Linked DNA regions of Homo sapiens: regions 1 and 2 are each linked to region 3. A link means that fine-mapping ties the variant in region 3 to the expression of a gene that starts in the linked region. Tissue or cell type: whole blood. Region 3 holds a variant in brackets; each other region holds the start of a gene. All regions are shown on one strand. Distances are between the middles of the regions. Region 1 holds the start of VENTX (VENT homeobox). Region 2 holds the start of ADAM8 (ADAM metallopeptidase domain 8). Region 3 has its middle 57 kb from the start of LINC01168.

What was found.
Region 1: VENTX starts here. The variant in region 3 is fine-mapped to the expression of VENTX in whole blood (TOPMed, PIP 0.96).
Region 2: it holds the start of ADAM8, and the variant in region 3 is fine-mapped to the expression of ADAM8 in whole blood (TOPMed, PIP above 0.99).

What each region holds. Positions count from the first base shown.
Region 1 is chr10:133,232,339-133,242,062 of GRCh38, reverse strand. It overlaps VENTX (VENT homeobox), which reads right to left and starts at 4,208. Exons shown (of 3, transcript NM_014468.4): 1 at 3,908-4,208; 2 at 2,227-2,387; 3 at 135-2,131. The coding sequence starts at 4,148. The coding sequence ends at 1,757. RefSeq lists enhancers at 3,421-4,024, 4,025-4,629, 4,630-5,233, 6,443-7,047, 9,465-9,724.
Region 2 is chr10:133,271,478-133,281,475 of GRCh38, reverse strand. It overlaps ADAM8 (ADAM metallopeptidase domain 8), which reads left to right and starts at 4,608. Exons shown (of 23, transcript NM_001109.5): 1 at 4,608-4,704; 2 at 5,889-5,992; 3 at 7,241-7,317; 4 at 7,447-7,525; 5 at 7,638-7,714; 6 at 8,033-8,222; 7 at 8,457-8,519; 8 at 8,610-8,678; 9 at 8,891-9,060; 10 at 9,202-9,283; 11 at 9,522-9,670; 12 at 9,771-9,948. The coding sequence starts at 4,659. TUBGCP2 (tubulin gamma complex component 2) reads left to right here. Exons shown (of 18, transcript NM_006659.4): 17 at 40-203; 18 at 1,575-2,841. The coding sequence ends at 1,710. RefSeq lists enhancers at 2,584-2,663, 3,154-3,203, 4,518-5,165, 6,169-6,428, 6,466-7,115 and a silencer at 4,359-4,918.
Region 3 is chr10:133,017,319-133,027,316 of GRCh38, reverse strand. No RefSeq gene overlaps it. Among named protein-coding and RNA genes, the nearest start is that of LINC01168, 57 kb to the right of the region's middle. The variant C/T (reference allele first, on the strand shown) is at 4,950.

The sequences.
Region 1 (9,724 bases), 210 kb before region 3:
GGCCCAGTGTGCTGGCAGGACCTCGAGACACCACCAGGCCAGGGCCCTTACTCACCGGGAGAGTTCAGGACCAAGACGGTGTGGTTTGTGGCCTGGGGCCACACAGGGGACCAGAAAGCAATCTCCACGGGCGGTGAGGGGCACTTGTACTTTTATCACGGACAACGTGCCCCCATCCACATCCACAAATCAGTGCTGTCCAGGCCAAACCCAGTAGTCCCTGTCCAGCTGCTGCCCTCCGAGGGCCTCGCCCAGGCTTCTGTCACATTGTCACTCGCCAGGACGATGTACAGCAGCTGTTCCCCTCTTACCTGACGTTTAAAAGCACATGCCAGTTGTAAACACTTACAACAAGGGAGAAACGAGCAAGGGGAAAGTGAAACTCGCTGGGGACGCAGCCGCAGGACCACGCTTCTGTTCCTGTTGGGGTGCCCGGGTGGGTTTCACAGGTCGCCTCCAGTTCTGCAGGCTGAACCCGTCTGCCTGGGCACCCCGCACTGCCTGCCTCCTGGGCACTCTGGGGCGACATGGAAGGAATTGCACTTGTCTCAGGTTTCATGCACGCAGTCAGGAGTCTGCACCAAGAACGGTCCATCAACGCGGGAGTCCTCCCCGGGAGGGGCTTCCGTGCCTCCCATTCTGGGCACTTCCAGACCTTCTGCAAGAAGTGCTGTCCTTGAGTCATTGTTTTGTCCCGAGGCTGCTGCGAGCAGGGGGACAGGTGAGCACGTGTTGGAGGGTGGGGACCTGCGGGACAGCTTCAGTCCAGGCACAGCCGCAGGTCCCGGCTGCCCTGCTTTCCCTGGCCCAAGAAGAGCAGCCCTCAGCAAGCTGTGGGTACAGTCCCGGCTCACGCACAGCCTAGAGCGCACTGCAGGGCCCCAGCATCCTCGCCTTCATGTTCACCTTTGTTCCCTCCTGCTTTCCAGCTTTGGAGTTCTTGTTAAGAGGGACTTGAACCACAACGCTATAAACACACCTGCATTCCCTGTTTTCTTTTGTACACACAAAGCTTACAACCTTTACTGTTTCCAACTGGAAAACCAGTTTTTCCAACCCCTTTTAAAAAACAAATGATCCTTTTATCGTACGCCGAAAGCCCTACCCATGACAAGCCCACTTCTGCATTTGACTCTGTTCACTGACCCTTCGTTTCCTTCCTAAACCGACTCTTTCGGTAACTTTCAGTGAAGAGGTGGCTTTAATAAATATATTCTCAGGGCCGGGTGCAGTGGCTCATGCCTGTAATCCCAGCACTTTGGGAGGCCGAGGCGGGCGGATCACAGGGTCAGGAGTTTGAGACCAGCCTGGCTAACATGGTGAAACCCCATTTCTACTAAAAATAGAAAAAATTAGCCGGGCGTGGTGGCGGGTGTCTGTAATCCCAGCTACTCGGGAGGCTGAGGCTGGAGAATCGCTTGAACCCAGGAGGCGGAGGTTGCAGTGAGCCGAGATTGCGTCATTGCACTCCAGCCTGGGTGACAGAGCAACACTCCGTCTCAAAAAAAAAAAAAAAAAAAAAAATATATATATATATACACACACATATGTATATATATATTTATATATACGTATATGTGTATTTACATATATACGTACATATATATATTTATATATATTCTCCAGTAATCTCCAGAACCTTTGTGTGGGTCAGGGTGAGAGGTGCCACCAGGATGTAAACAGAACAACTGAGTCCTCCAGGTAGGAGCCAGGTGCGATCAGCAAGACCGCGAGTGTGGGAGTCAGAGGTGCCTCCTCAAAATGCATCCCCCGTCTGTGGCATAGCACACAGGCCCCGGGGCCCCGTGGACAGGGCTGGTCCCAGCGAAGGCCGGCCTGGGGTAGGGGGGTGGGACGCCAGAGGCTGCCCGCAGCAGGAAGCTCCCGCAGATGCCAGGGCCTCTTGTGCCACTTGGCAGAGACCCCAGAAGGAGCCAGGGGGCAGCATCAGAGCCTGGGGCCCGGACAGGGGTGCCCAAGGGCACAGCAGCTGCAGGCCATTGGCAAGGCCAGAAGACGTTGAGTAGAAAGCTGGGGGCGCATGGAGAGACCCCGAGAAGGGGCTGTGCAGCTGGGGGTCCTGCATTTGCCGTTTGTGTTTCATGCGGCGATTCTGAAACCAGGTTTTTATCTGTAGGAAAAGCAAGATCAGAACAGGGGTGAGACTAGGCCACCAGCCCACCCTTGCCCACCCCTGCCCACCCCAGCCTGCCCGGCCCACCTCACCTGGACCTCTGAGAGCTGCATCTCCCTGGCCAGCCTCTTCCGCTCCAGAGGGCTCAGGTACTGGTGGTGCTGGAAGACGCCCTCCAAGGTGCGGACCTGCTCCATGGTGAAGGCTGTGCGGACACGGGGGGCCCGCAAGGTATTTGGCTCCTTACTCAACCCTGACATAGAGGGTAAGGGCATTTGGCTCAACATGCCACCCCATGGGGCAAGCTCGTGCCCACGGGTAACAGGTGAAGACAGCCATGCTGGGGGCTGGGCAGGGCAGATCTTCTCACCTGACAGTGACCAGCAGCACCCCCGCCGCCTCCCAGGTCACATGCGGAAAGGGGGCTCAGAGAGGGGGCTCAAGAGGGGAGGGAATGTTAACAGCAGCTTGGGCCTGCCCTCCGCTCAGTCCACTCAGTTCCGCCCCATCCCACACTTCCCTTCCAGAAGCCGGTTCCCAGGATGCCCTTCCCACAGCCTTCCAGGCCGGTAAGGTAAGAATCCATTATATGCAAAGGCCTGGCGACCCACCCAGGGGCACCCATCCCTGTCCCGGGCTCCGTCTCCTCAGCCAGCGGAGGCCAACTCAGTTAATCCCCAGGCCCACTGTGGTCAAGTCTGTTTCCTAATTTCTAAGTTAAGGAATGGGGGCTGGCACCAAACGGCCCCACGAGGTGGTCTGTGGAGCTGGGTCTGGGTCCCAGGAAAGGCCAACGTGGCCAATCGAGCTCGACATTAAATGCAAGTCTGACCAAAATGCTCGCTGGAGTTTCTGCGGAAGGAAGCGTATTTTACAAAATCTGTCTTAACGTTAGCCTGAAAGCACATGGTAGACCCAAAAAGCAAATGCCTTCTGGCAGGGAGGGCTGTAGGACTGGCATCAGAAAGGGGGTTGCGGGACAGGGATGGCTGGCTTTTTTGGGGTGGGGCAGGATAGCTAGCTGGGGAGAATACATTTAAATTTTCATTTCCCTTAAGTACAAAGTCACTCCATAAGGATCAGTCAAATTTTTAAAAATGAAAACTTGTAGATGATGTCAACCCCACTTTTGACCAAGTACTACCTTAAACCTAAAAGTGGTGATGATGTCACAAAGACTAAAACACAAACGCAGAGAACCTTTGTTCTCAGCAGACAACAGAGCATCTGGGCGGCCACAGAGGGAACTTCAGAGTTTCTGCAGGCATCGGGGTCACCGCCACCCCTGCAGCGAACCTGCAGGCTCTTTAAAGACAGCTGTGCTCCAGGTGACCCGGAATGGGCTTGAGCCTAGACGCTGAGCAGGCACCGGCTGTGCTGGGGGGCGGGGGCGGGGGGCTTGGCAAATCATCGAGACTTTCAGTGAGCGCCCGGAATCAGGGCAGGGAGGTGCGGACGGGGACCCCTTGGACGGTCCCTCGGCACCAGGCCGGGGTGGGGGACGAAGACACAGCTGAGGAACGGGGTGACAAAAGGAGGCAGAGGAGCCCACCGGGGGCTCAAGGAGAGGAAATCCCCGTCAAGGCTTTGGTTCCGAGGGAAGCTGCGCTCCAGTGAGGGCGCCGGCAAGGCCTCCGCCGGCCCTCATGGAAACGCCCCCGGCCCTGACCTAGTGGGCAGGGCACCGCGGGGAGTGCAGCCGCCGGGCTCCTGGCCTCTCCCCCACTCCCATCTCCACCTGGGAAGGAAGGGACCCCCCCCACCCGGACCTACCGGCCATGGTCCTCTCCGGCGCAGGCAGATTTGAGGACCCGGCGGCCTCCTTGATGCTGACGGCCTGAGGGGGCTCCCGGGCGCCGGATGTCTGGCCTGGGCCAGGGAGGCTCCCCAGGGAGAAGTCGGCAGGCCTGGGGGTGTGGGTCGGCCCTGAGCAGCTGCTCTGGGAGAGCCAGTCCACGGAGCCAAAGCTGGAGAGCTGCTGCGGGCCACGAGGTGGGGAGGAGGAGAGGCGCATGGCGGCCAGGTGGGCCGGAGGGAAGGCCAGGCGGGGCTGGCCAGGCGCAGGATCCACCTCGGGCCTCGCCAGGCGGCGGCGTTTATAAGCCCAGGAGGAGGGGGCGGGAGCCCGGTTTGCATACACGGCTAATGCCCAGATAAGCAGCGCCTAATTGCCTTCGATTCAGAGGCACAAAGGAGGCCGTTCACACCTCCCCGGCTCCTCGATGTCTGGGGGAGGGGCGGGGCTGCGGGCCCTGGTTAATGGAGAGGCGATGGTTCGGGATCGGTCACCTCCTTTCATCTCTCCCAACCCCCCACCCCGCGGGCCGAGGCTGCAGGAAGGTAGGAGGGTCCCACTCCCACTTGGGCCTGTCCTGGGAGGTGCCGGGCGACCTCTCCTCTCCAGGGGGACGCTGGCGCCTGTGCCCAGCCCGGACACCCGAGGGCGAGCAGGCTTCAGGCTGGGAGAGTCAGGGCGGACTTAGGTTGGGAGCAGGCTTCGGGGTGGGAGAGTCAGGCCGGTGCCCGCGTGCGCTGCGTCCAGGCTGTGCGGCCGCGCAGGAACCGAGGGAGGCTTTCCCGGGAAAGAGACGCGGAGGACCCGGGGAGCGGCGCGCGGGGGCGGGAATGTCGGGAGGGGCCTCTCGGGGGACTCGGCCGCCTCCAGCCCTAATCCGGCTCCTCTGGGGGACTCACTCCGGGGCCATCGCAGGAGCCTCTGCATTCGGGCGCGGGCGGCTCCCTGACTCCATCCCGAGCTGGAAGGGCCGGAGCCACTGCCTCGCACGGCGGGGTAGGAACTCCGCGTCGGCGGCGGGACTGGTGCGTCCCCGCCAAGCCAGGCTGTCCCCACTGTGGCCAGGGCGCGGGCAGAGCCGCCGGTGACTGTGGCGCCCAAACCTCACGGGGACGCCCTGAGCACGGGCCCCCGGGACGGTCATAGCCACGCGCGGCCGCTGCTCCCACGAACCTGAGTCCCGAGCTGTCTGCGTCTCCGCGTCCCCGGGTCGCCTGCGCGTCGGCGTGGGGCGCGGGGACCGACGTGACCGGGTGGGAGGCAGCCATGCCGAGGGTAGGACGGTGTCTTCCGCGCACTGGCTTGGGGTCCGCACGGCGTCTCCGGCGGCCGGAGTTAGGCGGAGGCGCAGGTCCGGCCCCCGAAGCCATGCGGGGTTTCGGCGCAGACGCGGGGTCCACGGAGCAGCCCCGACTCCCGGCCAGGTCCTGACCGCGGCTGCCTCAGCGCCCACGCCGCCCGCGGAAATCAGAAAGACCGGCGGGCCTCGCCCCACGGTTACGCCCGCCCCAGCCAGCCGAGCCTCCCGGGCTGAGCAAAGAGGTTGGAGCCCGGGAGGCGGGCGCTGGGGCGGGACCTCAGCCGGGAACCGATCGGCGGCCTACCTGGGGTCACAGGAGAGGGGTCGCGGAACGGACCGTGCCGCCGCTGACCCTGGTCTTCCTCGGACCCTGCCGGCCCAGTTAGGTCACTGGGCCCTCAAGGGGGAGGCTGGCGGGGGTGGGGCGCTGGGGGCTTTGGACGTGGCCTCGGGGGTAAAGCCAGGAGGGGTGGGGGGCCAGGAAGCCGGCCTAGACCCCCGCTGCACTTCATCTCCGGAGAGACCGGGTCACCCCCGGTAGAGGGGCTTTGAGCCACTGCACAGGACCGGCAGTGTGTCCCGGCCAGGGGCAGCGAGGGCCCAGATGCCTGTGGCCACAGGGCTGGCCCCGAGGATGCCCCATGGGGCAGGTCCCCAGCACTCCCGCAGTGGGGGCGGTGCCTCAAAGTGGAGCAAGACAGCACACCTCACACATCCCGCAAAAACATACAGAACGTTCGACAGGCAGGGAAAAGGCCCAGAAGCTTCCCTTACATAAAGAGGAACACCACGAGCATGCATTTCCGAAACGCCAGCACCCAGCCTTCCATTTCTCCATTTCTAATTTCCGGGGCCCAGGGCCCCGGTGTCTCAGCCCCCTTCTGTACGTGGTTCAGCACCCCCACCCCCAGCTCTACATAGAGCCCCTCCTGCCGGTTTCCCAGCCCCCCGCCACCACCTCCACCTGAACCGCCCCCTCCGATCCCCCCAAGCCCGAAGACAACCTCACCTTCACACGGCAGGGTCAGGCAGCCCCTCTCTCCTGCCCAGCGGCCCCACCACCGTGGCTCAGGCCTCCCCGCCTCCTGCAGCCCGGGCCCCTCCCTCCACCCTCCCTCTAGAGCCCGCCGAGGCTGCTCTAGCCCAGGCTTGGGGGTCCCCAAAGCCTCCGCCTCCAAGCCTCCGTCCACCCCCGGCTCTGGGACGCGCCCTGATGCGCTGCCATGGGTAGGAGACTTGGGCGCCCCCCTGCCTCCTTCCTCCCAGCCCCTGGGGCAGCCCAGCCCCGTGAATTGCGCCCCGCACGCCCCAGAGCGTGGTCCCCGCGGGCGTCGCCCTGTCCCCCACCCTCGGGGGCCAGGCCGGGTTGCGCTGGGCAGGAAGTCCCGCGTCACTCCCAGGCCGACAGCACCGCCCCCACGCACAGCCCGGAGTCCAGCTAGTCCCCGAAACGCGCTCCCCCCGAGTCCAGGGCCTGAGGACAGACACCGGGCCCAGCGCGTGCTGCCGGCCCCGTCGCGACTCGCCCGAGCCTCCTCCGAGCACTCTGGGACCACCTGAGGGGGAGGCCAGCTACTCAGGAGGCTGAGGCAGGAGAATCTCTTGAACCTGGGAGATGGAGGTTGCAGTGAGCCGAGATCGTGCCCCTGCACTCCAGCCTGGGCGACAGAGTGAGACTCGGCTGAAAAGGCTGCACATTGTATGATTCCATTCATATGGCCCTCTAGAAAAAGCGAAACTATAGGAACAGAAAATAGATCAATGGTTGCCAGGGCTGGGAGTCAGGGAGCAGGTGACTATAAAGGGACACAAAAAAAGTTTCTTGTTGTTATGGAAATGTTCCGTAACTCAATTGTGGTTTTGGTTGCACAACTATATGTATTTTTACAAATTCGTAGAACCGTACACTACAAATGGTGAGTTTTACTGTATGTGAATTACACGTCAATTAACCAGACTTTAAAAAAAGTTTGTAGAGATTCCCCAACCCCTCCCCAACACCCACCCCTGTGGCCTCGGCCTCCCTGACATCCCACGTGCCCCCTTCCCCGACGCCCCACGATCCCCGCTCCCCAACACCTCCACGCCCCCCTCCCCGACACCTCCATGCCCCCCTCACCGACACCCCACGCCCCCTTCCCTGACACCCCCACGCTCCCCTCCCCGACTCCCCCACACTCCCCGCTCCCCGACTCCCCCATGTTCCCCGCTCCCCGACACGTCCACTAGGAAGTGGGGCTGGTCTGGTGCATGGCCGATAAAGAAACGCTAAGCCGGCCAGGTGCGGTAGCTCACGCCTGTAATCCCAGCACTTCGGGAGGCCAAGGTGGTCGGGTCACCTGAGATTGGGAGTTCGAGACCAGCCTGACCAGCATGGTGAAACCCTGTCTCTACTAAAATACAAAATTAGCCAGGCGTGGTGATACATGCCTGTAATCCCAGCTATTCGGGAGGCTGAGACAGGAGAATCGCTTGAATCCAGGAGGCGGAGGTTGTGGTGAGCCAAGATCGCACCATTGCACTCCAGCCTGGGCAACAAGAGCCAGACTCCATCTAAAAAAAAAAAGGTAACGCTAAACCAACTGTGCTCAGACACTGGCCCCATTAAACAGCACACAGGAGGCTAATCCTGCCATGCCTACAGAGCGCCTTACTTATTTTGGAGACAGGCTTTCACTGTTGCCCAGGCCGGAGCGCCTCATGTGATCACAGCTCACTGCAGCCTCGATCTCCAGGGCCCAAGTGATCCTCCTGCCTGAGCCTCCAGTGAAGCTGGGACTGCAGGTGCGTGCCACCATGTCCAGTTAATTTTTGTGTATTTTGTAGAGATGGGATTTTATCATGTTGGCCAGGCTGGTCTCAAACTCCTGAGCTCAAGTAATTCTCCTGCCTCAGCCTCCCAAAGTGCTGGTATTACAGGCATGAGCCACCGCATCTGGCCCCTAGATTGATTTAAACAGCCAAAATACACTCTCTGCACCAGATTAGAAAGCATTAGAGGTCCGGGGCCCATGTATTCAGATTCATTATTCTGATACCGGGCTCAGGAGGATCATAGCACGTGGCCCCTGCCCCACTACCTGAGTAGGAAGGCAGATTAATTCTGCTTGGTGCCCCTAAATTGCTCCAGCCCAGAGATGGGTCCTTCCTCCAGGGCCGAGTGTCCAGTAACCCGAGTGATAGAGCGGCACAGCCCCCACCCTTAGGGTGCTGGTGTGTTTGCTGGGATGTGGCTGTCTGGACCTGGGCTTGCTGTCAGCAGTAACCTTCTGGAGCGACAGGGTCATGTAGGGTGCACCTAAGCTCTGTTTCAGACCCCACTGTGGCCTCAGCCTGTGACTCTGACCTTTGGGGGCTGTGTATGTGAGGGGGAATGTTTGCAAGCTTGGCTCATCCAACAGGCTTTTAGCAGCTTGAAGATTCTCAGGAAACACAGCAGGGTGGAGCTGATGTGAGACGGGGTCTCACCATGTTGCCCATGCTGGTTTGGAATGCCTGAGCTCAAAGTGATCTTTCCGCCCAGGCCTCCCAAAGTGTTGATATTATAGGCGTGAGCCACCTAGCCTGGCCTAGGGTGTCTATTTTTTTTTTTTTTTTTTGAGACGGAGTCTCGCTCTGTCACCCAGGCTGGAGTGCAGTGCACAACCTCCACTTCCCAGGTTCAAGCGATTCTCCTGCCTCCTCCTGCCTCAGCCTCCCGAGTAGCTGGGATTACAGGCTCACGCCACCATGCCTAATTTTTGCATTTTTAGTAGAGATGGGGTTTTACCATGTTGGTTAGGCTGGTCTCAAACTCCTGACCTCGTTTGTGATCTGCCCGCCTCTGGCCTCCCAAAGACCTGGGATTACAGGCGTGAGCCACCGCGTCTGCCTTCAGAGTGTTTTTTTGTTTTTTGAGACAGAGTCTCTGTTGCCCAGGCTGGTGTGCAGTGGCGCAATCTTGGCTCACTGCAACCTCCGCCTCCTGGGTTCAGCACTTCTCCTGCCTCAGCCTCCCGAGTAACTGGGACTACAGGCACCCGCCACCACACCCGGCTAATTTTTGTATTTTTAGTAGAGATGGGGTTTCACCATGTTGCCCAGGCTGGTCTCGAACTCCTGAGCGAGCTCAGGCAATCCACCCACCTCAGCCTCCCAAAGTGTTAGGATTACAGGCGTGAGCCACAGCGTCCGGCGCCTCAGTTTCTTAAATGAGGTGAGGCTTGGAGTCAGTTCTTGCAGGCGTGGTCTCACAGGCCTCCCCCTCAGACCTGGGCAAGCCGTTCATTTCCCCAGGAGCAGCCTTTAGCACTAGCGGGAACTATTCTTCTGGATACCCAGAAAAGCATGTGCAGGAGGGGCTGCAACCATACCACCCACAGGGAACCCCTCAGGACTGCTGGGTGCTGGGCCAGCGGGGACCCCCCCAGCCCCATTTAGCTGCATGGCCCTGGGCAAACCACTTGTCTTTCTGGATGGGCCCACTAATTTGCAGGCATTGTTATGCTAGCGGAAC
Region 2 (9,998 bases), 250 kb before region 3:
GGGGTGGGCATGGCTCACGCACCCCGGCTTTCTTTCCAGCACCTGGCTGAGCACGCAGACACTGTGCAGCTGGTGTCCGGCTTCGAGGCCACCATCAACAAGTTTGACAAGAACTTCTCAGCCCACCTGCTGGACCTCCTGGCCCGGCTGAGCATCTATAGCACCAGTGACTGTGAGCACGGCATGGCCAGCGTCATCTCCAGGTGGGTGGGCGCCACCCCGGCTCAGCCCTTCCTCAGCTCAGTCCAGCGCCTGCCCCTGCCCAGCACCGCCCTGGCTCAGCCCTTCCTCAGCTCAGTCCAGCACCTGCCCCTGCCCAACACCGCCCTGGCCCAGTGCTGTCCCTGCTCAGCCGTCCCCCAGCTCAGCCCAGCACCTGCCCCTGCCCAGCACTGCCCTGGCCCAGTGCTGCCCCGGCTCAGCCTTCCCCCAGCTCAGCCCAGCACCTGCCCCTGCCCAGCACCGCCCTGGCTCAGCCCTTCCTCAGCTCAGTCCAGCACCTGCCCCTGCCCAACACCGCCCTGGCCCAGTGCTGTCCCGGCTCAGCCTTCCCCCAGCTCAGCCCAGCGCCTGCCCCTGCCCAGCACCGCCCTGGCCCAGTGCTGCCCCGGCTCAGCCTTCCCCCAGCTCAGCCCAGCGCCTGCCCCGGCTCAGCCCTTCCTCAGCTCAGCCCAGCATCTGCCCCAGCCCAGCGCCACCCCAGCTCAGCACCTGTCCCTGCATCCAGGCCCCATCTCCCCTGCACCCTCCCCTGGTCCACCTGGTGTAGCCTCCTTCAGAAGGTGGGGCAGGTCTGTGTCCTGGTGCTAGTGCTGGTCATATGCCACTCCCTGAAGTCAGGCTAGCCCAGCTCTCCCTGGGGTGTGACATTCTGTGCAACTGGGCTGCCCCATTGGCACCCTGCGGCTGTGTGTGTCCTGTGGGGCTGATCAGGCCTGGGTCAGCTTCCCTCATGCTGCACTAACACCTAGCCTGGGGGAAAGGGCCAGGTGGCCAAACTGCCAGCCTGGAAGGGGTGGTGCCCTTGGGGGTGCTGTCCTTGGGAAGGTGCCTATTTGTGCTTTTGGACCACCCTGTGCCCTGTGCCCCCCACAAATGTTCTGATTTTCTGAGCAGGGATTTCTGAGGCCACCCTGCATTGAGAACCACTGCTTGGTTCTCCAAGCCCCTGACACCTCAGGCCCCATTGCTAGGCCCTGTTGGGGTGATGGGAGCCCCAACTTTCTGGGGCCAGGAGAGAAGAAACCTGTGTTTGTGCCTTTGAGCAGGACTGAACAGGACTGAAAACCTTCCTGTGGAAACATTAGTTAGGAGCGTGCCTCACCCTCACCCCTGCAGGGCCTCTTATGGTCTCTGTAGCTGAACACTTCCCCATGGTAGGAGCAGGGCTGCTCAGGACGGACCCGCAGAAGGAGTGTGTGCCCCAGCTCCACTGTCCTTCCTCACCCCTGCTGCCCAGCACGCACCCGCAGAAGGGGTGTGCACCCTAGCTGCACCGTCCTTCCACACCCCTGCTGCCCAGCATGCACCCGCAGAAGGGGTGTGCACCCCAGCTCCACTGTCCTTCCTCACAGGCTTGACTTCAATGGTTTCTACACGGAGCGCCTGGAGCGCCTGTCTGCAGAGAGGAGCCAGAAGGCCACCCCCCAAGTGCCTGTCCTGCGGGGGCCCCCGGCTCCTGCACCCAGGGTCGCAGTCACCGCACAGTGAGCCCTGGCTGTGACAGGAAGGAAGGGTGTGGGGTCAGCAGGGACTGGTGCAAATGGGTCCAGAATTTTCAAATCGAATGCTCTGTGTTCTGTCTTTGCAGTTTAAATATAAAGCAGGAATGATTGACTCAGCTCACTTTGTTTCTCAAGGCGCTGGGTTTCGTTTTATAGAAGCTGCCCAGGCAGGGTGGATGTCTCCCTGGATTTGCTAATCTGTTTGCTTTTTGAAATTACACTATCACCTTTTTGGGTGTTTTTGGCCTCAAAGTGGAAATACATGGTGTTTAAGCCAGGAGCAAGCAAAGATGCATGTGGGGTAAGATCCAGGCCTGGTGTCCACATCTTTCCGGGTGAGCTGGGGCCGGGCTTCCTGAGGTCTGTCGGAACCGGGACAAGCCTCTGGAAACGGTCAGGGAGTTGTGGAAACCCACCGGGCATCGGGTGTCGGGTTTGCTTTGGCCCCAGAGGCAGCCCCGTTCCTTCTCCTGAGGACTCACCCGCCTCCACGACCCTCCTCCTGCTGCTGCTCCAACTGGTCCAGGGCAGGAGGCCACAGACAGGGCCCTCAGGCACCCTGGGAGCCCACACCTCCCCCTCCGTGGGAGTGGGTCGAGGGGCAGGCTCTGCTGCTGGCTGGAAACCCCACCCCGCCCTATCCGGTACCGCCTTGTTACGTAGAACTTACTCAGCAGACTGACACCCAATCCCCCTCGGGCGATCATCTGCCCTGTCTTCCCACCTCCAGGGCTACAGTGGGCAGCACCGCCATCCCCAGTGTGACAGGGCCCTGGGAGCCTCAGGGCTGCCCGGCCAGGTTGGTCTGCTCTGGTTACATTCTGGCCAAGCTGCCCCTTCCTGCTGACCTGCATGTGTATTGTTGTCACCTTCAGCTCTCAGCACCTCGGCCCCCTTGGGCAGTGAGGAAGGGCCCTGGAGGCGAGGTTGGGAGAAAGGATAGCTAGAACAGGATCCTGCGGGGAACAAGGGTTGTGGGCAGCTCTCACCCGGGGCTGCCTCACTGAGAGCACCGCCGAGTGGGGGTGGGGGTGTCCAACTCTCCAGCCACAAACCGCTTCCTCCTTGTCTGCAGGCTGTGCAGGTCTGGCCTGTGAGTAAACACATTTATCAGCAACCCAAGCTGTCAGTCTCAGTGTTGTGCAAATGCCGGACTGGTGAGCAGAGGAGCCTGCTAGCTTTCCTGCCTGGCCCCGAGGCCCAGAAACCCCTGATCTTGTGTCCTGGGGTCTGGGAAGCCCTGGGCCTTGAGAAGTGGGGTTTGCAGGTGGTGATAGGAGGAGGGGAGGGAAGCCTCCAGGGCTGTGGGGTTCAGGCTCCCAGACCCCCCGGCACCTGCTGAAGAGGAGAGCTGTGTTCTGTGGGATTGGGTGGAACTTCCTCAGCGCGGGAGGAGCCTGTTCTGGCCCAAGCTGGTCCTGTCTTTTTAGGAATAAATCCCTGGTAGCTCAGCGTCGGCAGGGGCCTTGCTGTGCCTCTGATGTGGCCAGCGTGCCGCCTTTGCACTTTGCTGTTGAGTAACTTGCACCATGAGGTCAAGGAAGGGAAGTGTGATTGCCAGCTGGCCATTGTTCTATAATAACAGGGTCACCTGCATGAGCTCAGGCACAGGCCAGTATCCCCAGCCCTACCTGGGAGCCTCTCGGCAGCCTGGGGGACCTCGTCCTGTGCCACACAGGCAAGCGGACACACCCCCAGGCAGCAGAAGTCACCTGCGGCCCAGTGCCAGCCCTTGCTTTCTTGCTTTTCATGCCATTCACATTAGGGTAAGAATGGCTTTGAGACAAAATGTGACAGCATCACTCACGCCAGCTTAGATCCTCCGGGTTCCCTGTCCTCCCAGGATAACGTCCGAGGCCCCGGCCTCTTCTTGCCACTGCCCCTTGACCTCTGTCCTCTGCCCCTAGGCCCGTGCAGTTCCCTGACTCGCCCTGCCCTGGTGCCCTCTCTCCAGGCAGGACTCCCTCCAGCCCCTTGCTGGCCCTGCCCTGCCTCTCCCCAGGGAGGCCCTGAGGCCCCCCCCCCCCATGTGATCTGTCAGCAGCGCCCTGTGTGGTCATCTGAGCTGCCTTTCCTGCCACCACCACTGTTCCCACTCCAGGAGGGCGGCCTGGCTGTGAAAGCCCCAGGGAGGGGTCCTGGGTGGACCGTCTGGGGAGCTGTGGTGTCAGCCCAAACCTGCACCCTCGAGGCTGAGCCCACCACGGGGAATGTGGTCACCAAGGGCAAGCACGCTTGGCCGCAGGCCTGGAGACGCCGGAGCCAGGCCACGGTGGGCTGCTGCAGGCTTTGGTCCACGTCGGCCAGCGTCAGCTGCTGTCTGGGGATCTTAGGCTAGGGACGGCCCCTGCACCTGCCATCACCTGGGCTGGGACCCCCACCTAGGGCTCCCCCTCCCCACTTGGACGCCTGCGGGCCCATGCCTATCCCACTCCGGTGAGGCCTCAGCCTGGTGGAGGGGGCGCAGGCTTGGGGGGGAGGGTGGCAGAGCTTCCCACAGGGCTGAACCTATGCCCACAAAGCCATGACTTGCCCCTGCCTGAGGCTTTCTGTTCCCCAGGAAATCAGAGACCCCCTCTCCTGAAACCGCCAGGCGGCCCTCACAAGTCCCTTCCCCTCCAGGACCTGCCTGGCGCCACCTCCTTCCAGCCGCCGGGTCCTTCGAGAGGCCCCCTCTCGGGGCTCTGGCCGGACTTGGGACAGGCTGTGCCTGAGTTTCCTCACCTGTGCAAGGGAGGATGCTGGATTGTGGGGAGAGGGGAAACGGACCCCGCCCCCAGGTGCCGCGCGCCCCGCCCCTCCCACCGGCCGAGGGGCCCATTGGCTGCGGGGCGCCGGGGCGGGGCGCGCGGAAAAGAGCCTCGGGCCAGGAGCGCAGGAACCAGACCGTGTCCCGCGGGGCTGTCACCTCCGCCTCTGCTCCCCGACCCGGCCATGCGCGGCCTCGGGCTCTGGCTGCTGGGCGCGATGATGCTGCCTGGTGAGTGGTTCCAGGGAACCGTCCCGGGCGCAGCGCGGGGCAGGGTGGCTCTCCCCGCAGGACGCGACGCGGACCCCGAGCCCCTGGCCTGCTCGCACCCCGCACCCTGGCCCGGCTTCGGGCTGGTCCCTGGGAGCGGGCCATCAGGTGCACAGTGGTCTCTGGGTGGAGAGCCCCGGGCCGGGGAGGCCGGGGAGGTCGGAGGGAACCTTCAAAGGTGAACTGTGAGAGGGAAGTCCCGCCTCTGAGCTTGTTAGTGGGGTCGGGGCCGGGCCAAGCAGGACGCTTCACCTGCTGCGCGAGGCGCCCTGGGTTCCTGGGATTCACCTGTGGGGCTACCCACCCCCACTATTTAGCCGAGGAGGGAAGGGAGGGCAGACAAGCTGAGGCCTGGAGTGCAGGGGTGTGGGCTGAGGGGACCCGTCTCCTGCCTGGGGGAGGACATGGGGCTGCTGACCCTGGATCCCACCCCTGCTCCTGGAGTGACTTGGGCTGGGGTGTGCTGAGGAGCTTCAGGCTGGAGGCCGGGTTGCTTCCCGCCAGTTTCCTGGGCAGATAGGGGCTGGCTGCTCCCCTGCTGCCTCTCCAGGTTGGAGATGTGGTCATGGAGACACGTCCACTATTGTGTTTTAATGGGAGCAAAGGGTCCTGGGGTTGGTGGTCTCCGAAACCCTGCCCATTGCATGCTGGGACCCTGCCCTCTGCTCTCGGATACCAGGGAGTTTCCAGTTCTTGGGAGGTGAACAGCCTCCGGGAGGCACTTCCTGCTCCCCAGTTAGATGCGATCAGATGATCAGAAGAATGGAGGAGGAGAATGGAAACGGGCAGGTCGGCGGCCCGAGTCCTCCTCCCTGGGGGGAAGGTTCATCCTTGCCCTCGGGCCCCTCCAGAGATCTGAGACAGCCTGGAGACCTGTGGAGTCACTGGCACCCGCTGGCACCCACAGCGTCTCTGAGCACTGTGTGTGGGTGCTGCAGGACACAGGCCCACCGGCCATGCCTGGGGGCGCTCCTGGGGTCTTTTAGGCACAGAACCCTCACTTGAGTCTTTGTCCCAGAGCTATCTGGTGAGTTCCCCAGGGGAGGGTCAAGCCCAGCAAGAGACAGAATCTGAGGGCCCAGGAGGCCTCTGGGAAGGAAACCTGCCCCCCGGCCCCTCATGCCTGCTGACCCTCCCTCCTGCAGCGATTGCCCCCAGCCGGCCCTGGGCCCTCATGGAGCAGTATGAGGTCGTGTTGCCGTGGCGTCTGCCAGGCCCCCGAGTCCGCCGAGCTCTGCCCTCCCACTTGGTGAGTCTAAGCTGGCCTGGGGAGGGTCCCTGGCTGGCCCCTGAGCCTATTTTTGTGAAAGGAGCTTTAGCTTACAGAAAGTGGTGAGAGGCCAGTGGGTGTCTGGGGCTGCCCTGTACAGCTCTAGCCCCCTGGGGCCCATCTCCGTTCCTCCCTCCAGCACTGCCTGAGGGCTCCCAGCCTCCTCGTTCCTTCAGGAGCTCTATGGACCCCTGGAAGGGAGCAGGGGCAGGTTGTGCTGGCCCCGGGCCCCTCCCCAGTTTCACTTGGCGAGGCTGATAAGCCAAATTCCTCTTTGAGAAGTGACGCTGGCTCACCGCAGAGTTGACACACCTTCCTGTGTTGGGGGGGGGGCCTGGCGGGGGTTTCCCAGGGCTAGAAACTGAGAATGCCCCCCTCCCCGACTGGGGCTGCCCGAGGGTGATTCCTGAAGCCTGAGTGGGTGGGTGTGCACACATGTGCACGGCATATGCATGTGTGCACCTGTTTCCAGGGAGGGCAGTTCCGGCCCCAGCCCTGTCCTTACCTCAGCATCCGGGGAACCTACTACCGACCTGCCCGCTGCCCTGGGCTCATCCAGCCGGTGGCACAGCTAAGGCTGTCCCAGAGCTCTGCAGGCCGAGCCCCAGCCTGCACATGGGGGCTGGAGATGCAGTGGTCCAGCAGGAGGCTCTGCAGGCACCACCAGGTCCGGCAGCTGCTGGAAGGGATGGGTCCTGGAGGCAGGCAGCTGTCGCTGGAGGGGCCTGTGCGTGCTATCCCCGCCACCCACCTCCTTTGCTGCCTGGCTGAGGCTATGCCTCCCCCACCCTATGCTTTCTCGGGGAAGGGGCATTGTCGTTACCCATGCGTGGTCAGATGGGGAAACTGAGGCCTGGGAGGACCGAGGAGCACCGTGTCCTTCCTGTCTACCCAAGTGCTGGGCTCCGCCGGTCGCCTTCAGCACAGCCCCGTTCCCTACCCTCCACCCTCCACCCCCCGCCCCCCACCCTCTGCCCTCCGCCCCCCGCCTCCACCCTCCACCCTCCACTCTCCACCCTCCACCTTCCACCCCCCACCCCCTGCCCCCTACCCTCCACCCTCCACCCTCTACCCTGCCTGAGGCTGTGGACCCTCCAGGATGGAGCCTTGACCTGGGGCTGGAGGCCGGCACCCCTTCCCCCCCAGCTGAGCTTCTCTGGCCCCCAGGATTGAGGTGGGCACAGCCCGGGCAGGCTGCTCACCTGGGACCCTTCCCTCCTCGCTCAGGGCCTGCACCCAGAGAGGGTGAGCTACGTCCTTGGGGCCACAGGGCACAACTTCACCCTCCACCTGCGGAAGAACAGGTGAGTGGGTCTCGGGTCGGCCCCCCTGCCCGGGCCTGGCTCCAGCACACTGGTGTCCCCGGCGTCCAGCCTCTGGGCCAGCCTCTCTGCACCGAGGGGGCCGAGGCAGTCACAGCACTTCTTTTCCAGGGACCTGCTGGGCTCCGGCTACACAGAGACCTATACGGCTGCCAATGGCTCCGAGGTGACGGAGCAGCCTCGCGGGCAGGTATGGGTCGGGCGGAGCAGCTGGGCGGGCAGGTAGGGGCTGGGCGGCCCTCCCCGAGCCTGTGGGGCCATGGGGGCACAGCCTGTGGACCCCTCTCCTGCTTCCCCCGCAGGACCACTGCTTCTACCAGGGCCACGTAGAGGGGTACCCGGACTCAGCCGCCAGCCTCAGCACCTGTGCCGGCCTCAGGTGGGTGTGGCGGACGAACGCCAGGGCTCCCGCAGGTGGAGAGGAAGGCCTAAGCCTGTGGTGGGGGTGGGGAAGGGAGGCAGGGAGGGTGCCTCCTCCTCCCACTCAGGCCTTTGCTGTCTTGCATGGGGGTCTGCTCAGGGGACGCCAAGCCCAAGAGGCTCACCCTCCTGTACCCTGGGGCCTGAAGTCACCTGCGGGGGGCTGCTGGTGGCAGGGTAGGGGGAGCTGTAGGCAACAAACTGGAGCCTCTGGTCCTTCGGGGCAGGACCAGGCCACTCTGAAGCCCACAGCACACCCGGCTCCCACTCCCCTCAGGGGTTTCTTCCAGGTGGGGTCAGACCTGCACCTGATCGAGCCCCTGGATGAAGGTGGCGAGGGCGGACGGCACGCCGTGTACCAGGCTGAGCACCTGCTGCAGACGGCCGGGACCTGCGGGGTCAGCGACGACAGCCTGGGCAGCCTCCTGGGACCCCGGACGGCAGCCGTCTTCAGGCCTCGGCCCGGGGTGAGCACCCTTGTCTCCTGTGTTTGGCTGGCCCTGCCGGTGTCCACTTGCCTGGCCTGTGAGTCCTCCTGGCTCCCCATGTGCTGGGTGCTGCCCATTGTCTGCAGCCTGGAGCAGGCCTGGCCACGCTCCCCCAGCACTGGACAGGGGCTGGACAGTGGCCCCGGGTCCCTGAGGGAGGGTCCAGGCCCCGGCGCTGGGAAGGCTGACTGGCTTCTTGTGGCTGTTCCCCAGGACTCTCTGCCATCCCGAGAGACCCGCTACGTGGAGCTGTATGTGGTCGTGGACAATGCAGAGGTGTGTTGGGGGCAGGGAAGGTGGGAGAGCAGCCGGCGGCGGGGGCATGGGGGGTGTGTGGGCTCCAGCCTGAGGGTCTCGTGTCCCCAGTTCCAGATGCTGGGGAGCGAAGCAGCCGTGCGTCATCGGGTGCTGGAGGTGGTGAATCACGTGGACAAGGTGGGCAGCGGTCCTGGCTGCAGAGGTGCCAGAGCCCCTGGCGGGAGGTGGGGGGGGTGTTGCCACAGGGTTCATTCCACCTGCTCCAGCTCTGCCCCGCACCTGTGCCTGGCCCCACCTCGCCGTGGGACAGGTGCATCCTCCGCCACCCACCCTCCCTGCTGTACCTTCCGCCACCCTGCCTGACCCCCAGGACTCCACCACCTCTCCAGCTATATCAGAAACTCAACTTCCGTGTGGTCCTGGTGGGCCTGGAGATTTGGAATAGTCAGGACAGGTTCCACGTCAGCCCCGACCCCAGTGTCACACTGGAGAACCTCCTGACCTGGCAGGCACGGCAACGGACACGGCGGCACCTGCATGACAACGTACAGCTCATCACGTGAGCTGGCGGAGCGGGCAGGGTGGGGAGGGCTGGGGAGGGAGGGCGGGCAGGGTGGGGTGGAAGGGAGAGCAGGGCTGGGGTGGGAGGGAAGTGGGGAGGGAGCCGTGTCCAGGGCATCTGTGTCACTCCCACTTCCAGGGGTGTCGACTTCACCGGGACTACCGTGGGGTTTGCCAGGGTGTCCGCCATGTGCTCCCACAGCTCAGGGGCTGTGAACCAGGTGAGGGGGCTCCTGCCCGGGTTTGCCAGGCCGAGGCCAGAGCTGGATAGGGGAGGGGACGCCTCGGTCCAGGTCTCTGGAGCAGGCCACCTCCCCTCAGGCCAGGTTTAATGCCTGATTTTATGTTTTAAGGTGGTGTTGGCGGGAAGCTGTGCCAAGTCCTGGGCCCTGGTGGGGTGAGGGTGGCAGGCGTGGGGAGTTGGCCACATGGTTCCTGAGAGCACAGACCCTCCTGCAGGACCACAGCAAGAACCCCGTGGGCGTGGCCTGTACCATGGCCCATGAGATGGGCCACAACCTGGGCATGGACCATGATGAGAACGTCCAGGGCTGCCGCTGCCAGGAACGCTTCGAGGCCGGCCGCTGCATCATGGCGGGCAGCATTGGGTGAGGCGGCCAGGCCCTGCAGAGCCAGGGTATGCTGGAGGTACGAGGTGGGTGGGGAAGGGGCCAGGCCGCCTCCCCCAATGCTGCCCCGCCTCCCCAGCTCCAGTTTCCCCAGGATGTTCAGTGACTGCAGCCAGGCCTACCTGGAGAGCTTTTTGGAGCGGCCGCAGTCGGTGTGCCTCGCCAACGCCCCTGACCTCAGCCACCTGGTGGGCGGCCCCGTGTGTGGGAACCTGTTTGTGGAGCGTGGGGAGCAGTGCGACTGCGGCCCCCCCGAGGTGCGTCCATGCCCCATACCTGCTCCCGTCAGCACTGGGTGCCACAACCT
Region 3 (9,998 bases):
AAGCTGGCCCCCAGGCTCACAGGGTTCATGGCAGGCTGGTCCCCAGGCTCACAGGGTTCACGGCAGGCTGGCCCCCCAGGCTCACAGGGTCGGCGGCAAGCTGGTCCCCAGGCTCACAGGGTCGGCGGCAAGCTGGTCCCCAGGCTCACAGGGTCCACGGCAAGCTGGTCCCCAGGCTCACAGGGTTGGCGGCAAGCTGGTCCCCAGGCTCACAGGGTTGGCGGCAAGCTGGTCCCCAGGCTCAGGAAAGCAGCCCAGGGCAGGACGGGCCTCGTCTGCGTGTGCCCCATGTTGCACTGCCGCAGAGGGATCCAGAAGGTGCTGCTCTGGGTCCACACCGAGGGGACAGCATGCACCAGGCTTCAGTATTGCAGGACACCTGCTTTGCCTGGGCCGCGGTGCTTCTGGATACCCTGCTCTGGCTGTGGTCCCACAGCATACCTGCTCTACGGGGGACAGGAACAGAGCCCGGCTGCCAGGTCAGCTCCCCCCTCTCTCAGGATGCTGCGTTCCCAGCAAGAATCTGCAGTGGTTCTTGAGAAGTACAAGCAAGAAAGGCGGTGGGCACTAAGTGGGTCCAAGGCCACTCAGAGACTCACCCGGCCCCACTCAGCTGCAGCTGAGAGCCTTGTGTGTCTAGTTCTGTGTCGCCGCTGGACAAGAGACGTCCTGCTGATTTTTCCAAGCCAGCATAGTAAATCATTAATAATTGTGAGCCTGTTTAAACCATTTACTTTTGGAAAGTAACATCAGGATTTTAAAGGCAAGAATTGCCAGGAAATGCGGGTCTGTTGGTAACTATTGAGTTTTGTCCCCAGAACACATTGTAAGGCGGCAGGCAGCAGGCCCAGCAGGGCAGTGAGTGGGCTGGGGTTGGCCCTGTGGACTGGGACTGGTAGACATGTCCTCTGCAAAGCCCCCGCTGGAGCCTGGGCCTGCCTTGCTGGTGCAGAGGAGGCTGGTGCTGCGGGATTCCTGTGAGGAGGCGGCTGATGTGGGCCACGGGGCATCACCGTGGCACCTGAGGGGCCCCACTGGAGGAGCCAAGCGGGTACCCACACAGAGTACCTGCCCCTGAGGAGAGAGATGGAGGCTGCAGTCCTGGGCTCCCCATTCCCTTCTTTGCCTAACATCCGTGTGTCGAGGAAATCCTGCCTCCCAAGCAGAACACATCCCAGCTCCTCACTGGGGAATTTTACTGCCCTGTGTGGCTCCCAGCCTGCATCAGGCTACGAGCTCTGCCCTGTTCCTGGCTCCTCTTGCCCCGAGAGCTGTGGGTCCCACCCTTTGGCTTCTCACTCAGAAGCAAGGCCTCGTCCTCCACCCACCTCTCTCTTCAGGGCCTGCGTCTGCCCACACTGGCCTCTGCTCTGACACTCTCCTGGGGGTCGGCTGGCCTCCCAGGCCCACCCGGGACCCTCCCCACCTACACACCCCATGCTCCGTGCTCGGCAGGGCCCTCCTTCCCTCTTTGTTTGGCAAAGGCTCTGTCACCCCAGATCCCTCCAGCTCCCACACTTGCTCCCGCCCTCACTTAGGCTTCACCGACTGCACCTCTGAGCCCATCCCTGCAAGGGGGGGCAGTGGGGGCCCCTGCCTCATCCTCCCCCCACCAGGACCTGGGCTTCACAGGTGTGCAACAGGTTCTTGGCAAATAAACAGAAACCAAAGATTAAGCGTGTCCCCAAATGCCAAAATGCCACATTATCTCCGCTGTTTCAGGACTCTGGAGGAAGACCCTCCCAGCCCACTGGCCGCTGTGCACCTGCAGGTGAGGGGATGCACCTGCTGTGTGAAGGGATGCAGGGCGCATTGCTGCAGATGGGAGCCATGGCCCGGGGATGCCACCTCGTGCCGTGTGGAGAAGACCTCTGATGAGCCCTCCTCATCCTCTGTGTGGGCGCCAGTGCTGTCCCCAGACAGGGCTGGGAACTGCTGGACAGAAGGCAGGGAGCTGGCGTGATGGGAGCTGCCCCATTTTAAGGTTCACTCCCTCGTGCTGATCAGATAACACAGGGTGTCCAGCCTCTCCAGGGAGCCTTAGGGAGATTGGAGGGCTAACCTCGAAAACCTTAGTCTTCATGTCTTGCCGGTTACCTTTCCAAATGTTACGGAAATGAGACATTGGATGTGACACCCTGTGGTCCCAAAGTCAGGCAGGAGCGGGAGTGGCCACAGCCTCGAGGGACGCGGAGGGAGCCCGGTGGCCACATCTCCGCAGAGCCGAGCCCCGCCAAGTGTTACTCTGGGACTGCTCTGCCGGGTCTCATGGCAAAAGGAGATGGTAAAAATAACGTGGCCGTAAATCCTGGACGCCCAACAGGCCATCAAGTCTGCTGCAATGCCCGCTGCTGCCACTCTCGGTTGGGGCCCCTGCCAGCATCTCCAGAGCTGACTTCGTTGTCGGGTGTGTGACTCTGAGATGGGAGGGAACAGACCTCTGCGTTCCGAGGCGGGAGGAGTGAGAGCTTCATGGGCGGCAAGAGCGGATCCAGTGACATTTCGATTGTTATTTAAAAGCGATTGAAAGCTTGGGGCAAAGTTTTACATGACTGACTTATGCTTCCTGGAGACAAAGGAGCCGATTTCAAGTTTTCAGAGACAGTAAGTGTTCAATTCATGGAGGAAAAAAGTCAAAAGCAGTGTAAAAGTAGGATGCTGCCTTCAAACTGCTCACTGAACCCCCGAGACAATGCAGGAGCTCTCAGGGACCTCTCGGGAACGCTCAGGGGGCAGTGGCCCCGAACCAGCCAGGGCAGATGCTGTTCCAGCTGCAGGATCGATGCAGACTCAGGCAGCCACGTCCGACCTAAGTCAACAAAATGGTGCCACCCCGGCCCTCGGCAAAGCCCAGAGACCACCAAACAGCCCCTAGAGGTTTCATACCCCAGAAAACCTCTGCTTGGAAAAATGTTTAAAGCGAAACTTTGGGTTTTGGCTGTCTAGAGGAGAACGCATGTTTCTGGCAAGATGAGGTTGTTGTGAGCCAGGGGCGTTTTATCGCCAGTCCTCACGTCTCAGCCCCTGTTTGGAGTACGCTCAGGTCAGCCCAAGCATCTTCAGGAGGAGCCACCTTTCTGTGAGTAGGAAAGACAACGGTGCCCACCCCAGTCACGTCTTTCACACTTTCATCCTGGCAATGAGAGCGAAGACCCCGGGGCTGGAAGGAGCAGGAGCTTGAAGACCCCGGGACTGGAAGGAGCAGGAGCTCAAAGACCCTGGGGCTGGAAGGAGCAGGAGCTCGAAGACCCCGGGGCTGGAAGGAGCAGGAGCTCGAAGACCCCGGGGCTGGAAGGAGCAGGAGCTAGAAGACCCCGGGGCTGGAAGGAGCAGGAGCTTGAAGACCCCGGGGCTGGAAGGAGCAGGAGCTTGAAGACCCCGGGGCTGGAAGGAGCAGGAGCTTGAAGACCCCGGGGCTGGAAGGAGCAGGAGCTTGAAGACCCTGGGGCTGGAAGGAGCAGGAGCTCGAAGACCCCGGGGCTGGAAGGAGCAGGAGCTCTCCTCTCAGTGGTCACACATGCAGGCTCAGCAGCCAGAGACCCAGGACAGTCATCTGTGGCCCCACCTCCTTCCGCTGTGGCCTGGAACACCGCCGTCCCACGTGGACTTGGAACACCACCACCCCACGTGGACCTGGAACACCACCGCCCCACGTGGACCTGGAACACCACCGCCCCACGTGGACCTGGAACACCACCGCCCCACGTGGACTTGGAACACCACCGCCCCACGCGGATCCATCCACAGGGCCCCGGGCACAGGTTGAGGCTAAGACAGGAGCAGCCACAGCTCTGGGCAGCCTCCCTGACACGCAGGGACCCACTGCACTTGGTGAGGCCCCTGGTCATGTGAGGCCAGCCTGGCGTTTTTGGAAGGTGTGCGTGGGTTTGCGAACCATGTCTGTTAGTCATGGCTACCCGAGGCTCCGCTCCAGCTCGCTCTTGCCGTGGTCACGTTGGTGTCACCTGATTTCTATTTTGGCTGAGAAATGCTGCAGACGGCCCGGCCAGGCTTGGGTTGCGAGTGTGGGTGGTCGGTGGGACCTTTCATGGAAACGCAGGTGCTGGCCGGTGCCTGGGGAGGCCTGGACCAGCCCCACAGGGCACGGGCAACAGCTTCTGTTCCTGCGCTTGAGGTGGACAAAGTTGAAAGGTGCTGATAAAAGTGCCTGAGCCAGAGACGTACGAGGGAGAGGGAGCGAGGCCCAGACACCTGCTCAGCCATATTGAGACAATCCTGAAGCCAAAATCTCCACTAGGCCCCAAGGCCAAAGGGCTACTGGGAACCTCCCCTGAGCAGTAACAAGACCTCAGCAAATTCTTTCCAAATAAATTGTTTTCCCAACGGCTGAGGGCAGGCTAGCTTCCCGAGGATGCTGGGTAATCTGATTAGACGCCAGTGGGGCGGGAGGGAGGCAGGAAACAGCCCTCCTCCGGCCCAGAGCCGCCGCGGCTGACGGATCATTTGGTGGAAATGATTTTTAGCTGCTAGAAACCCAGAGTTGCCCAAGTGACAGCTGCGTTTCTGAGTTTGTAGGTAATGATTCAAACTTAATTCTGCAGAGCAGTTTAAGTCCGTTTTCGCTGTGAGCTCTGCCACCCATGGCTGCGGTGCTTGGACCACAGTCCTGAAGAGTTTAAAGTCCATCCAGACTCCCAGAGCCAGGAGCCTCAGACCCGCTCCAGGCACCCGGCTTTCCATGAGCTCCAGAGGCAGATCGGCCACATCACAGACGTGTGTCTGTGTGAGCACCTCTGCTCCTGACGACAGGGTGGGGGACTGCGGGCCGGGTCAGTCCCACTTCCAGGTCAGAAAGGGCCGACTGCTATCAGCCTTTGCCCTGCAATGTCAGGAGGCTGCCCGTGTATTCTAAAGAGGGTCAGCTCAGAGAGGACCCAGCTGACGTTGCCCTGGTGGGGTCCGCGGGAGAGCGTAGCCAGGCCGAGGGC[C/T]GACTCCGGAGAGCAGGACGAGTCGCCTGGGCCCTCAGCGGAGACAAGCGCGGTGGCCTCTTTCCGCGGCCCCCATGCAGAGCCGGCCCTGCCTCCCTTAGGCTCCGCCAACGCCTAGAGCTCCTCGTGGGTGACGGCGGGGCTCAGCCGCCCCCGAAGGACATCGTGGGGGTGGGACCAGCGCCCGCCCCGTGCCTCTGCATGCTTCAGGCTGCTGCGCCGCACATCAGAGAGAACCGTGCTGGGGCTGGTGGGTGCCCTGAGACACTGGAGGGGAGGGAACGGAAGTAGAAGGTTGTTCTCGGCCTGCGATCACGCGCGGGCAGGTCTGACGTGGCGTAGACCCCGGGTCCTTCCTGTTTATGGGTGTAATGTAGTTTATGGGTTTAATGTGGATATGTTATCACAGTTTGTAAGCTCGGATGTCTGCCAAAATGTCTGGAACACCCAAACTTGATTAGACCAACCGCGTTGGGGGGTTCCAAGGAGGGACGATGTCACGAGCCAGGCGCGCCGACCTCCAGGAGAGCCAGACACAGGTGGATGCCGTCGAGGGACTGTAGAAAGAGGATTCCCCAGTCAGCTCAACCCGCTGGCTGAGACGCAGACTTGAGAGGATAAGACACTGCCACTCAGAAAGGGGCCCGGAGTTGGCCGCCAACCTCGACGCTGGAGGAACCATCCCCGGAGACCCAAGGTCTCCCGCAACCTCCCTGTGCCTTATCGGTGTGAGAACTTGACCTTTCCCTAATGGTGAAAATGAGAAGCTGTGTGCAGTGTGACTGGGATAAACACCTACACTTGTTAGGAATTGTTTGTGCCAAGAAACCGTGGGATTCAGGCATTAAGCCACAGTGTCTCTCGTCCTCTGCCACTTCACCCGCTGCGCACGCTGCTGCCTCTCTAAATTGTTCCGCGCGTGGATCCCGGCACGTGCCAGGCGTCCCCTTGGAGTGCCCGTGCCCAGTCGGCAGCGGGGGCCTTGCTGAGGAGCTGGTGCTGCTGCCGGCCTCGCTTTCCGGTCCTGACTCCATGCCCAGGCCCGCCGGGCGTCGGCCGTGACCACAGGTGACATTCACGCAGCAGCCAGCGTCCTGGTGCCTGCCCGTCTGTCCCTGCTCCTCCCCAGCCCTCCCTCAACCCAGGGCTGGGGCCGGGACCGCGGAGGGGCTGACGGGAAGGGCGGCCGTCACCGCAGACAGGTGCAGACTGGAGCGACCAGTCTCAATCACACCAACCAGCCCAGGGGGAGGTTCTGAGCATTTGGTTGGCTTTTTGGAACTGGAAACACGCGTTCCCACAGAAGCACTGCTGTACAAATAGCGTTCCCAGCTTCTCCCCAAACACACACACCCTTGGAGAAGGTGTCCCGGGCAACAGCACTGCTGCCTCTAACTCCTGGAGCCACCCCCTCTCCTGACTCCTTCAGGGGAGAAGGCGGCCGTCCCCTGGGGGAGAAGGTGGCCGTCCCCTGGGGGAGAAGGCGGCCGTCCCCTGGGGGGGAAGGCGGCCGTCCCTTGGGGGAGAAGGTGGCCGTCCCCTGGGGGAGAAGGTCGCCGTCTCTTGAGGGGGAAGGTGGCTGTCCCTTCGGGCAGAAGGGTGGCAGTCCCGCCGAGAGCCCCATTCTCTCCTTTGTCCTGTCAGGGCGGTGATGACTTCTGCCCACACGGCAGGAAAGGACAGAGAGGCTTCCACCCGCGGTCTGAGGGGCTGTGTCAGGAGGCGTGAATCCGCACCCTGGTGCCTGGCTGGATGGGGGGCAGGCGGGATCCCTGGATCTTGGGGTGAGGGGAGGCCCTGACTTCACTGGCTCGGGCTGGACCTCAGGTGGTCTGGGCCACTGGTCTGTGGCTGTGTGAGTGGCCCAGCCCATCTGGTGCTGCTCAGGACATGATTGGTCGAGTGATCACCTACGAGGGCGCGGGCAGAGCTGGGGATCCCGCTGGGGAGGCAGCAGCTTCTCACACGCAGCGCCGCGTCTCTGCCCCACAGCCGGCGCCCACCCCAGCGACTCGGGTCCTTGGGTGTTGGACTGGACTGCAAGGCGGTGGCCCCGGCCTACAGACAGCGCTTCCCAAAGCAGGCAACTGGACCTAGAATTTCAGAGACCAGAGTTGGGTGCAGTTAGGGGTCCCAGCCCAGCTCCTCACTTGCAGATGGAGATGCTGAGTTCTGGAAGGTTCTGTGCTTTGCCCAAGACCCCCACCAGCTGTGGCAGAGCCCTCACTTTCACCGGTTCTAGACTCTGGCTCTTCTGAAGGCCCTGGGATCCCTGTGCCCTGCGCGGGGGGTACAGCCTGCATGTCGATGTCAGGCGCCCGCCCAGTGACTTGGGGCAGAGGTTGGTGTTTCGGTGGCTCTGACGCCCAGCCTGTGCCCGGCATGGAGCTTGGGTTAGTGACGCATGGACAGGTGCTGGCACCCCTTTGAGAAGCAGCTGTGCAGGGCACAGGTCCTCCCTTCAAATGCCTCTGGAAGTAGCTGGGGGCGGGCATGGGCGGACATGAATTCAGACTGGATGCCCTCTGGAACAGCCGCGTCTCCAGCCACTGTGGGCACGAAGGGACGGGTGCTCCCAACATGCAGCTGTGTCTGAGGATGAACTTCAACCCGGGTATCTCCAGCAGCGCACATGCTGTTAGCGGCTTGGAGCACAGGGTCCCCCACTGGCTGGCCCAGGAAGGGGGCAACCCCAGCCCTTCTGAGGATGAGGGACCCCTGTTTCTGGCCTATGTTGCCTGCTACTGGGAGGGCAGCGTCTTCGCCATGGTGGACTTTGCCTTTATCCTGGACACAAATGTCACAGCTGCCCTTAGGGAGGTGCGTGGAGCCTCCCCACCCCCCGCCCAACGCACCACAGGAGAGGCCCCAGCTCCACCTAGGCCATGTCCCGCTCGGGTCCTTCCCTCCAGCCTGTGGCTGTGTGAGGCAGGGGTGCATCCGACGGCCACTCGCCAGCCACCCCCATCCCCACGAGGATGCCACCGCCACTCCAGGAGCCAGGACACCAGCTGCACAGAGTGCGAGGCAGGTACCCACATCCCAAGGGCCCCGCCTGCAAACCAGCTCCGAAGGCAGCAGACGCCCAGCGCGGAAGGTGCCGGAAAGAGTCTCAGGGATGTGTGCCTGATGCATGTTTATGCTGCATGAAAAGGAAAACATTTCAAACCCCAAACAACCTTCACCTTTATCTAAATCTGGAAAAGTGTATTTTTTCATTTGTTCAGAAAGAGCATCTCTCAGAGGCAGCCTCGGCTGTCACTCGATATTAAACTGTCAGAAAGAAACTCCAGCCTCATAGCTCAATAAACCATGCGGAACAAAAAAGAAATCACAGGCTCTTTTATAGATTTTACAAAAGCAAGATGATGCTTTTTTTCAGGATACAAAAATCCCTTTTTTCTCTTTTAAGAAAACACAGTGTATAAAATCATGGTGCTAAGAATCAGATCAACAGCCTGGATTTTAATGTGGGGGAAGAGCATTCAGCAGAGAAATCCTTTTCTCCCCAAACGAGAGCTGCGGACACCAGAGACAGTCCCGGGGCACCAGACATGTCGCGGCTTCTGGAGCACGTTCTGGACTCTGGCTCTGGCGGGGGAGAGCCCCCTGGCTGTGATGACCCCCGGCTGACAAAGAGGACAGCCCCTGGGCCTGGGAGGCGAAGGCTCCGCCGGGTCTTCCTGAGCACCTGGTGCCCCCGTTCTGGAGCCCCCCAACCCCCGAACGTTTATGCAGCAGCAGGAGGGCAGGTCCCTGCACACGGTCCCGGTCACCACGGTCTCTGTCACCACGCTCCCTGCGGGTCCCGCTGTCCTACTAGACCCGTATGTGGCATCCGTGTCTACCAGACGCCCATGTGGCATCCGTGTCTACCAGACGCCCATATGGCATCCGTGTCTACCAGACGCCCATGTGGCATCCGTGTCTACCAGACACCCATATGGCATCTGTGTCCATTAGACCCCCATATGGCATCCGTGTCTACCAGACGCCCATGTGGCATCCGTGTCTACCAGACGCCCATGTGGCATCCGTGTCTACCAGACGCCCATGTGGCATCCGTGTCTACCAGACGCCGTATGTGGCATCCGTGTCTACCAGACGCCCATATGGCATCCGTGTCTACCAGACGCCCATGTGGCATCCGTGTCTACCAGACACCCATATGGCATCTGTGTCCATTAGACCCCCATATGGCATCCGTGTCTACCAGACGCCCATGCGGCATCCGTGTCTACCAGACGCCCATGCGGCATCCGTGTCTACCAGACGCCCATGCGGCATCCGTGTCTACCAGACGCCCATGCGGCATCCGTGTCTACCAGACGCCCATGCGGCATCCGTGTCTACCAGACGCCCATGTGGCATCCGTGTCTACCAGACGCCCATGTGGCATCCGTGTCTACCAGACGCCCATGTGGCATCTGTGTCCATTAGACCCCCATATGGCATCCGTGTCTACCAGACGCCCATGTGGCATCCGTGTCTACCAGACGCCCATGTGGCATCCGTGTCTACCAGACGCCCATGCGGCATCCGTGTCTACCAGACCCCCATGCGGCATCCGTGTCTACCAGATGCCATGTGGCATCCGTGTCTACTAGACCCCCATATGGCATCCGTGTCTACCAGATGCCCATGTGGCATCCGTGTCTACCAGATGCCCATGTGGCATCCGTGTCTACCAGACGCCATGCGGCATCCGTGTCTACCAGACGCCATGCGGCATCCGTGTCTACCAGACGCCATGCGGCATCCGTGTCTACCAGACGCCATGCGGCATCCGTGTCTACCAGACGCCATGCGGCATCCGTGTCTACCAGACCCCCATGCGGCATCCGTGTCTACTAGATGCCCACGTGGCACGTCAGCACCTGGCGCCCGGAGTGGCTGGGGTCTCTGTGAACGGAAGTGGTGTGTGGCCATACATGAGAAATGGTTGGACCCCTCCTTGCCAGGCTCAAGGTGTCCTTGGAGGCTGGCAGCCCCGGCCAGAACCGTGCAAATTTTTCCAAGGTGGCGCTGCCTCACAGGTGCCTGCACATT